Regions from separate parts of the Homo sapiens genome. Here region 2 is linked to region 1. The links come from fine-mapping of genetic effects on gene expression. A gene starts in region 1. The other region holds a variant in brackets. All regions are shown on one strand. Distances are from middle to middle. Region 1 holds the start of SEC16A (SEC16 homolog A, endoplasmic reticulum export factor). Region 2 overlaps SEC16A (SEC16 homolog A, endoplasmic reticulum export factor).

What was found. PIP is the estimated chance that this variant, and not a neighbour inherited with it, causes the effect. A credible set is the group of variants that fine-mapping cannot tell apart.
Region 2: its variant is the best candidate, but not a certain one, in a credible set for the expression of SEC16A in whole blood (INTERVAL, PIP 0.87).

What each region holds. Positions count from the first base shown.
Region 1 is chr9:136,480,763-136,485,142 of GRCh38, reverse strand. It overlaps SEC16A (SEC16 homolog A, endoplasmic reticulum export factor), which reads left to right and starts at 2,103. Exons shown (of 32, transcript NM_014866.2): 1 at 2,103-2,205. It overlaps C9orf163 (chromosome 9 putative open reading frame 163), which reads right to left and starts at 1,648. Exons shown (of 1, transcript NR_172629.1): 1 at 1-1,648. RefSeq lists silencers at 991-1,420, 1,571-1,750, 1,821-1,930, 2,161-2,480 and enhancers at 720-1,464, 2,210-2,955.
Region 2 is chr9:136,451,233-136,455,612 of GRCh38, reverse strand. SEC16A (SEC16 homolog A, endoplasmic reticulum export factor) reads left to right here. Exons shown (of 32, transcript NM_014866.2): 20 at 1-12; 21 at 1,286-1,504; 22 at 2,103-2,185; 23 at 4,205-4,357. Among named protein-coding and RNA genes, the nearest start is that of INPP5E, 14 kb to the right of the region's middle. The variant G/C (reference allele first, on the strand shown) is at 1,942.

The sequences.
Region 1 (4,380 bases):
CATCCCTGCCCTGAGGTCCAGAGACCTTGCATTTTATGCCTAGGGCAGGGTTGGTTTCTGCAGCTATGGTCTCTCCCATAGCTTAGTGCCCACCCCGGTGGGACCACAGGGTTTCGGAGGACCCTAGAGGGTCGAGCCCTGGGCTCCTGGCTCTTGGGTTCTTTGAACTCGCGAGCGGCAAAAGGCGAGCCCCACGCCTGAGAGGCAGCATCCACCTCTGCATCCCCCTCTTTGGAAAGGGCAAACAATGACACCTCCTTCCGCGGAGGGTGCAGAGCGCCTCGACCACTGGGAAGAAGCAGATGGGGGCAGCGGGGCTGGGGCTGGGCCCTACCACGTGCTCCCTAACTCTGTTCAAACAGGTCAGGAATCTGACTCCTGAAAGGCAAATGTTAGCTGAGCAGATTGGCCCTGGTGCCACGTCAGCCGGACTGAAGCTCTCCCTGCACCGCCTGCGGCCCTGCTGGCGTGGCACGGATATCACCCCCTCCCTCACCAGCCGCCGGCCCAGCTGGGGACAAGGGTGGCTCCCACCCAGGGAGGACCTCAGCCGCTGCTGGGAGCTCAGCCTCCCGCGATGCCATCGGGCGGGCACCCCCACCACGGCGCCTGCCCTCTGGAAGGAGCAGCAGAGGAAGGCCGCGGCTCTTCCCTGCCCTTGCCAGGCAGGTGTGCAGGTGAGTGGGCCCGGCATGGCTGGCCGCTTCCTCAACCGCTCAGCCTCCCTCGGCTCCTCCGAAAAATGAGGGCACAGAGGATAGTGCCCACCTGTTCCCTGCGATCTTCCGCGGGAGGGCGTGGATGCTGCCTGGCCTGGCCGTGGCAGGCACAGGAGCGCCTACCCGCCTCACCCCTCCGCTGGGTCGCTCTGGCCGCCCGAGCGCCCGGGCCCACTCGCCACCGACGTGCACTCAGCCAAGGCTGGGACCCCAGCGCCCCTGTGGGGCTGGCGGCCGGGGGAACGAACCGAGTAGGCCGCACCTCCCCGGGAGGACAGCAGGGCTGGGGCCAGGGTGGGCCTGGGAGGGCCCGGCGCAGCAAAGGCGCAGGGCGGAGCTTGGGGACGAGGAGCCCGCGCGTCCCCCTTGCGAGTCGGCGGACACCCGGCTCCGCGCGGTGGCCGGGCCGCCCCTCCCTGCCCGGGCCTCTGTGCAGAGCGAAGGGACAGTAGAGGATGCGTCGGGGAAACCCCAGGACGCTGGCCAGGGACTGGCGGCAGCCATCGACCAACTTCCGGCGCCGCTCGGTGCCCGCGGCCACGCCGTAACCAGGCAACCAGCGCGCAGGCGCAGTCGGCCCTCCGCGTCCCGCAGCTCCGGCCGCTCCCGGCGCATGCGCGGCCGCCGCCGCCTGCCCTCCAGCCTCCCAGCCCAACGGAAGAATGCGAGGAGCGCGCCCGCGTCAGGGCCCCGCGCTTCTCAGCTGGGCGGAGTAGCCGTTCTCGGTGCGTGAGCCTGCTGGCATCGGTCCTGCAGACTGATTTCCCGCTTGTGGCCTTGATTGAAGAATCCCATCTCTTCTCACATCTTAAAACGAAAAAAGACTGGGAGAAAGAGCCAGCGTAAACAGGGCGACGTACTGGGACGGCCCCGGCGCGCCTGGCCGGGCAGGTGGCGAGGGGCGGGGCCAAGCGGTGAGGCGGCAGACGGACGCCGGAGGGGGGCGGGGCCACGGGCGGGGAAGGACGGCCGAGGGGCGGGGCCAAAGGGGCGGGAACGACAGGATGAGGCGGAGAAAGACGGACGACGGGCGGGGCTAAGGGGGCGGGACGAAAGAATGAGGCGAGGAACGACGGAAGAGGGGCGGGGCCAAGGGGAGCGGGAACTACAGGATAAGGCGTGGAAGACGGGCGGGGGGCGGGACGAAAGAATGAGGCGGGGAAGAACGGACGCCGGCGAGGGGCGGGGGCAGAGGGGGCGGGACAGAGGGATGAGGCGGGGAGGACGGACGCCGGCGAGGGGCGGGGCCGAGGGATGGGCTGTGAAGGGCTGAAAGAGAACGCGTCTGGGCCGACGAGCCGAGGGGCGGGGCCAGGGGCGGGGCGCGCGCTGATGTCGTAAGCCGGACACGTCGGCGGCGCGGCGGCCGCGGAGACCCGAGCCGGATGTGCCAAGATGGCTGCGGCGGCTGAGGTGTCTGTGCTCGTCGCCAGCGTCGGGTGGGCTTTCGCCCGCGGCTCCTGAGGGATCGGTCTCAGCCGCGCGGGTGAGGGGGCGAGCGCGGGTGAGGGGGCGAGCGCGGGAGGAGGAAGGCGGAGGCCGGCCGGCGGAGCCAGGCCGTGGAGGTCGGGGCGCGGAGGAGAGGAGGCGGCTGGGCCCAGCCCCGAGCGGGCGGTGCATCTCGGGTCCCGCCGGGGCCGGTCGAGGGGACAGACGTCCGGGCCCCCGGGCCAGAGCGGAAGGCCGGACGCGGCGCGGGCCGCCGTGGGACTCGAGGGACTGACGTGGACCCGGCTGGGCTGCGGTGACGCCGGTTCCCGGGGCGGGAGGCTGGACCCCCAGGCACCCCTCGTAAGACTCTTAACTTTTCAAATGAGCGTGTCTTGTCCTCACCGGCTAGAAGGCTTCCTTAGCGATGCTGGTGAAGAGACACATTTACATTTGAACCAAAGAGCAGAGTTGTTTGTTTGTAATTTCTTGATTGGGCGATCAGGATGTTGCAACAGAGGCCGAGGGTTAGAGGAGTGTGTGTGATCCGGCTCGCCCCTTTGTGATGGAAGTGTTACAGTAGAGCCTTCAGAAACATCAGAGCCATTTAAAGTCAGTTTTTGCCGCTTAAGAACACTTTTAAATGGCTTGTAAGTTGGGTGTGGATTGTATATTAAGATTTTGTTTTACATGTGTGATGCCGATGTTAACCAAAGAGGTATTTCCCATCCCCCATGTGGCAATACGAAGCAAACGGAACCGCAGACGGTTCTTCCTAGAAGTGATACTTTTGCAAGTTTCAGCACAATGCAGCCTCCCTGCGTTTTTTCCTCATCCCCTTTCTTAAGTTTCAGGTGCTGGTATCTTGTAGACAAGAGGCAAAATAGCGTGTCTTTCTTGTTCCTTGTTCCTCGTTTACTGTTAATAGTGGTTACTACAGTGAGTCTCAAAATTGTACTTAAAGTTTTCTTTGAGGCAGTGGGCACTTTTTTTTTCTTTTTCTTTGTCTTTTTTTGCCAAATCCAGCAAGAGGTCATGGTAGTGGGTAAATGTTAATGTGATTTCTTCTTCTGTAAGCATCTTTCATGAATACCAGGGTCTTCGTCATTTTCATCAGTGTTAGGCTGCTGGCCTCCTCTGTCGCTGGCTTCCTCTTCAACATCTAACTGTATGTGGTTGCGATTCTAACTTAGAAGAGTTGGAGTTGATCATGTCTTTGTGTCAAGCATCCCACAGTCTGACAGGGCGTCACTAGCAGCCACCGTGAGGGAGACTGTAGGCAGTAGGTAAACTCAGGGGCTTCCTGGCACACTATTGTTTTCCTCACTTAAAATATGAAGCCAGTGGCAGCAAGAGGAGAGGGGTGTGCATGCATTTTAAATGCCTCAGTTCTGTAGCCAGAACTGTACTAAAAAGAGTTTTGCTTAGGTATCCACATGGTTACAAGGCAGTTTAACTGACTAGCTAGGTTTATGAATACTGCATTTTCAAGATCAGCTGGCCTCTTTGGAACAATAAAAGAATTAGATGACTTGAGGTTACAGAATAAAATTCCCTGGGCCGGGCGCGGTGGCTCATGCCTGTAATCCCAGCACTCTGGGAGGCTGAGGCGGGCGGATCACGAGGTCAGGAGATCGAGACCATCCTGGCTAACACGGTGAAACCCCGTCTCTACTGAAAATACAAAAAAAAATTAGCCGGGCGAGGTGGCGGGCGCCTGTAGTCCCAGCTACGCTGGAGGCTGAGGCAGGAGAATGGCGTGAACCCCGGGGGGCGGAGCCTGCAGTGAGCCGAGATCGCGCCACTGCACTCCAGCCTGGGTGAAAGAGCAAGACTCCGTCTCAAAAAAAAAAAAAAAAAAAAAAAGAATAAAATTCCCTGTAGTGGTGACATAGGTGATAGGCAGTTGCATTGTTTTTCTCCTGGTGAGTAGAGAAAAAGATCAAAAAAATCAGTTCAAGTCACAAGATTGTTCCAAATGAAAGTGGCATGTTGCTAAAAAGCTCTCAATTAGGGAGCATGAAGGTTGGAATGCTCCTTGTAAGTGATAATGTTTGCCATAAAAAAGCTCTTAGTCTAGGAGAGCTGCGGAATAATTTTTTTTTTTTTGAGACGGAGTCTCGCTCTGCCCAGGCGGGAGTGCAGTGGCGCGATCTCAGCTCACTGCAAGCTCCGCCTCCCAGGTTTACGCCATTCTCCTGCCTCAGCCTCCCGAGTAGCTGGGATTACAGGC
Region 2 (4,380 bases), 30 kb after region 1:
TGCTGCCCTCAGGTGAGCCCAGGTGCGCGGCTGCTGCCCTCAGACAAGCCCCTGCTTCCTGTGGGCTGAGCCATGGCCTGCACCCTTGCCTCCTGGAGAACTGCTTTCAGATGTGGACTGTTGGAGGCAGTGTCTCACACCACCTCGGTGGTTGTGGGGCTCCTCGGTCTCCTCCCTCTTCCCTTCATGCTTCCTCCCCTGAGGAGCCCATGGAGGGGAGGCTCATGGCTTTCCATGTCCATAAATATCCATGTGCTGGCGACACTGCCCTGAGCGCCCGCTGCCTGCTCAGCCTCCCTGCTTGTTTCTCCGGGAGCCTCAGCCGCACCGTGTCTGGGCGGCGCCCTCGGCTGTGCCCCTCTGTAACCTGCTTCTCCCAGTCGGCCCCGTCGGTGGAAGGGCCAGCCCAGAGCTCCAGGGAGTCAAGTCCAGATGCCCCCTCCTCTCTCGCGCTTCTCGGCTTCCTTCGTCAGTGAACCTCACCAGCGCGGCCTGCACGCAGGTCCGCATGCCTGGATGAGCACGGGCTCCTTCCTGCTCGCCTCCTGCTTCTTCCCCAGACCCTCCAGACTCTCCATCTCACCTGAGGACAAGCCAGGGTCCTCACGGTGGCCACAGGCCCTCCAAGCTTGGCCCTGAGCCCTCCTGCCCTCGTGCCATGTCCACTCCCACGCTGTGGACCAGCCACACTCCTGATTTGGGCCCACTGCCCACCCTCCCTGCCTGATGTCCAGTCTGCTTCGTCCTCAGACACCGTTACCACTTCCTGGTTGATTGCTGTCCTTAGCGCTTTCTCTTACTCAGTTCATCTGTCCCGACCCCCATGAGGACCCAGCATTTCTTTTGTTGTTGAAGCATCCAGGGCCCAGCATGGTGCTGGTAGGCAGCAGCCCTCTCAGGTTTTATGTTGAGTCGGAAGAATGAAGGAATGAACGAGTGGCCTGTGTGACCCCTGGCCGTGGAGGAGGGGACTCGGGCCTAGCAGAGCTCTGTGCCAGGCGGCCGCCATGGGCTTGCGTGTGGGCCGGGCCCTGGAGCCCGCGTGCCGCTGTGACTGCTCAAGTGCCCCTCCCCTAGAAAAGGAAGCGGATACTCTGCTTTTCTGCAAACCACGGATGGTGCGGTGGGGTGGTGGCTTCAGGCTTTCTGCTCTGTTGGACCTCCCTTATAAAAGAAATGGGGCTGTACAAAATAACTTGTCATAAACACGTCGAGTGTCAGCTCCTTCCAGTAACTCAAGCTACCCTCAGTAACCCCAGACCTCTTCTCCACCGTTCCCATGCAGCTCCGCAGACGCTCCCTGACGGCCCATTGGCCAGTCCTGCCAGAGTGCCGATGTTCCCAGTGCCACTGCCCCCGGGGCCCCTGGAGCCGGGTCCTGGCTGTGTGACCCCAGGGCCTGCACTTGGCTTCCTGGAGCCCTCCGGGCCTGGCCTCCCACCTGGTGTGCCACCTCTGCAGGAAAGGAGACACTTGCTCCAGGAAGCCAGGAGCCCAGACCCAGGTGGGGCTGCAGAGATGCTGTCTCGAGAGCAGAAGCAGCATGGGGTGTGGTGTTTGTGGGGATTGGTGGAAGAGATTGAAGTTATTTGAGCTTGAAACAACTTACATTACTTGTCTTAACGTAGACCAGAAATTCTGGAAGTTACAGACTGGATGGGTTCAGAGTCTCACTACAACAGCAGTGTTAATGCCAGTTCCTTTTGTAACTTGGCTTTTTGTTGTGAAGCTTAAATGGCCATTTGGGGCAGGGCATGGTGGCCATGGGTCTCCTGGGGTCTGTCTTTAGACGGCCCTGCTGGACGCCTGGTGAGATGCACAGGGGCAGGTCATGAACTGTCTGGAACTCGATTTGGTGGATCTTGTCCCTGGTCTGTGCCTATGTCTACATGTGTGTATATGGACAAAGCAAAACATAGGCCTAGTTTTAAAAATGAAAGA[G/C]TGTGCACACATGTGGGAAGATGTTCAGCCTTGGTTTCTGCAGATCATGCTGGTGTGGCGGTAGCTGGGTGGGAAGGTGGTGTGCCTGTTGATCTGTGCGCCACACACACGTCCCGCCTTCTCGTGACTGAGATCATAGTTGCTCTCTTTCCCGTTGACAGGGATAGTGCCGCAGGAGGCGCCTGTTGGAAACTCACTTTCCGAGCTAAGCGAAGAAAATTTTGATGGAAAATTTGCTAATCTGGTACTTTGTCACATTTTCTTAAACTGTTTGTTTTCCATAAAGTTCATCGAGTGGGCACCCAGACTCCTTGTTGAGTTGTAAGATGATGGTAGTGAGGACTATGAAATTGTTTCTAAAATTGTTTCTTAAAGTGAAAGTGCTTCTAAATAGCTTTCATCCTTAAAATATGAAGAGTTGGTGAAAACACTGGCAGGGAAAGATGGGGAAGAGAGAATTCAGTAGTGTAAAAACAGTTACTTTAAGTAGAAGAAATACCCAAATATCATGAAATCCCCTTATTAATTTTAATTCTTCCAAAATGGGTACCTTCTCTGATTTCTACATCTCTTTTTCTTTTTTTTTTCTTTTTTTTTTTTTTGAGACAGATTCTTGCTCTGTCGCCCAGGCTTGAGTGCAGTGGTGCGATCTCGGCTCACTGCAACCTCCACCTCCTGGGTTCAAGCAGTTCTGTGCCTCAGCCTCACAAGTAGCTGGGACTACAGGTGTGTGCCACCATGCCCGGCTAGTTTTTGTATTTTTAGTAGAGATGGGGTTTCACCATGTTGGCCAGGCTGGTCTTAAACTCCTGACCTCATGATCTACCCGCCTCAGCCTCCCAAAGTGCTGGGATTACAGGTGTGATCCACCAAGCCTGGCCTTTTTTTTTTTTTTTTTTTTTCCCTAAGACATAGTTTCGCTCTGTCGCCTAGGCTGGAATGCAGTGGCGCCATCTTGGCCACTGCAACCTCCGCCTCCCAGGTTCAAGTGATTCTCCAGCCTCAGCCTCCCAAGTAGCTGGGACTACAGGCATGTGCCACCATGCCTGGCTAATTTTTTGTATTTTTTGGTAGAGACAGGGTTTCGCCATGTTGGCCAGGCTAGTCTCGAACTCCTGACCTCAAGTGATCTGCCTGCCTCAGCCTCCCAAAGTGCTGGGATTAAGGTGTGAACCACTGCACCTGGCCATCTCTTTTTTTTTTTTTTTTTTTTTTTTTTTTTGAGATGGAGTTTCTCTCTGTCGCCCAGCCTGGAGTGCAGTGGTGCGATCTTGGCTCACTGCATCCTCTGCCTCCCAGGTTTAAGCAATTCTCTGCCTCAGCCTCCTGAGTAGCTGGGACTACAGGCGCCCACCACCACACCCAGCTCATTTTTTTTTGTATTTTTAGTAGAGATGGGGTTTCACCATCTTGGCCAGGCTGATCTTGAACTCCTGACCTCATGATCCACCTGCCTCAGCCTCCCAAAGTGCTGGGATTACAGGCATGAGCCACCCCGCCCAGCCCGGCCGTCTCTTTTTCTACAGTAGAATTTCTTTTCTAATTTTTTGATCTCACAAGAGGATGTCCTGGAATTCAGTAGAATTTCTAACATTGTCACTGGTTTTCCTGAAAGTGAGATTTATCTCATTAGACATGTTTGGTATAAATACCTCCTCTGTTTGCTCTACTCCTAACCAGGAGGGATGGTTGCTTTTATACAGACCGCATTCTGGAACCTTCTTTACAGATACCCAGCCCTTCACGGGCATCCCATCAGTAGGCGATTGCTATAGTTTGAACTTGCATTAGGTGTTTTACCCTTTAAAATACTGTGTCCCTGGAAAAGTAAAAATGAGGGTTGAGCTATTAAAAATTGGGACTTGACCCAGGAATAAATATTTTTAAAAATCATTGTATCTTTGAGAACACCCATCGCCCCCCTCTGGCCAGTCTTCCCTCAGTGCATGCTCACACTCCGTTTCTTCCAGCCCGGAATCTCCATCGAACGCCCTCATTTGCATTCTGAGTGCTGAGTGCTCCCAGACGGAGCTGCTTATTAAGTGCGGCTGGCTCTTCTCTAGTCAGGCCAGGTAGAGGCTCTGGGAGGCCCAGTCAGGGGGCTGCTCTCCCCAGCCCCCTTCCTGCCTCCCTCTGGTCACCAGAGTCATCCGGCCTCTCAGTGATGTATTTAGGAAACACGCCTGGGGAATTGCATCCCCCTCTCTCTTTCGGTTCCTGTGAGGAGCCCCAGGAGAGCCTGTTCTGCATTTCCTTGCGACAGACCCCCTCGAGGACGGTGCCAGACTCGGAGGCCCCCCCAGGGTGGGATCGTGCCGACTCGGGTCCCACGCAGCCACCTCTGTCTCTCTCACCCGCTCCCGAAACAAAGAGACCCGGACAGGCAGCCAAGAAAGAAACGAAGGAACCTAAGAAGGTAGTACAGCCTGCCCACGGTGC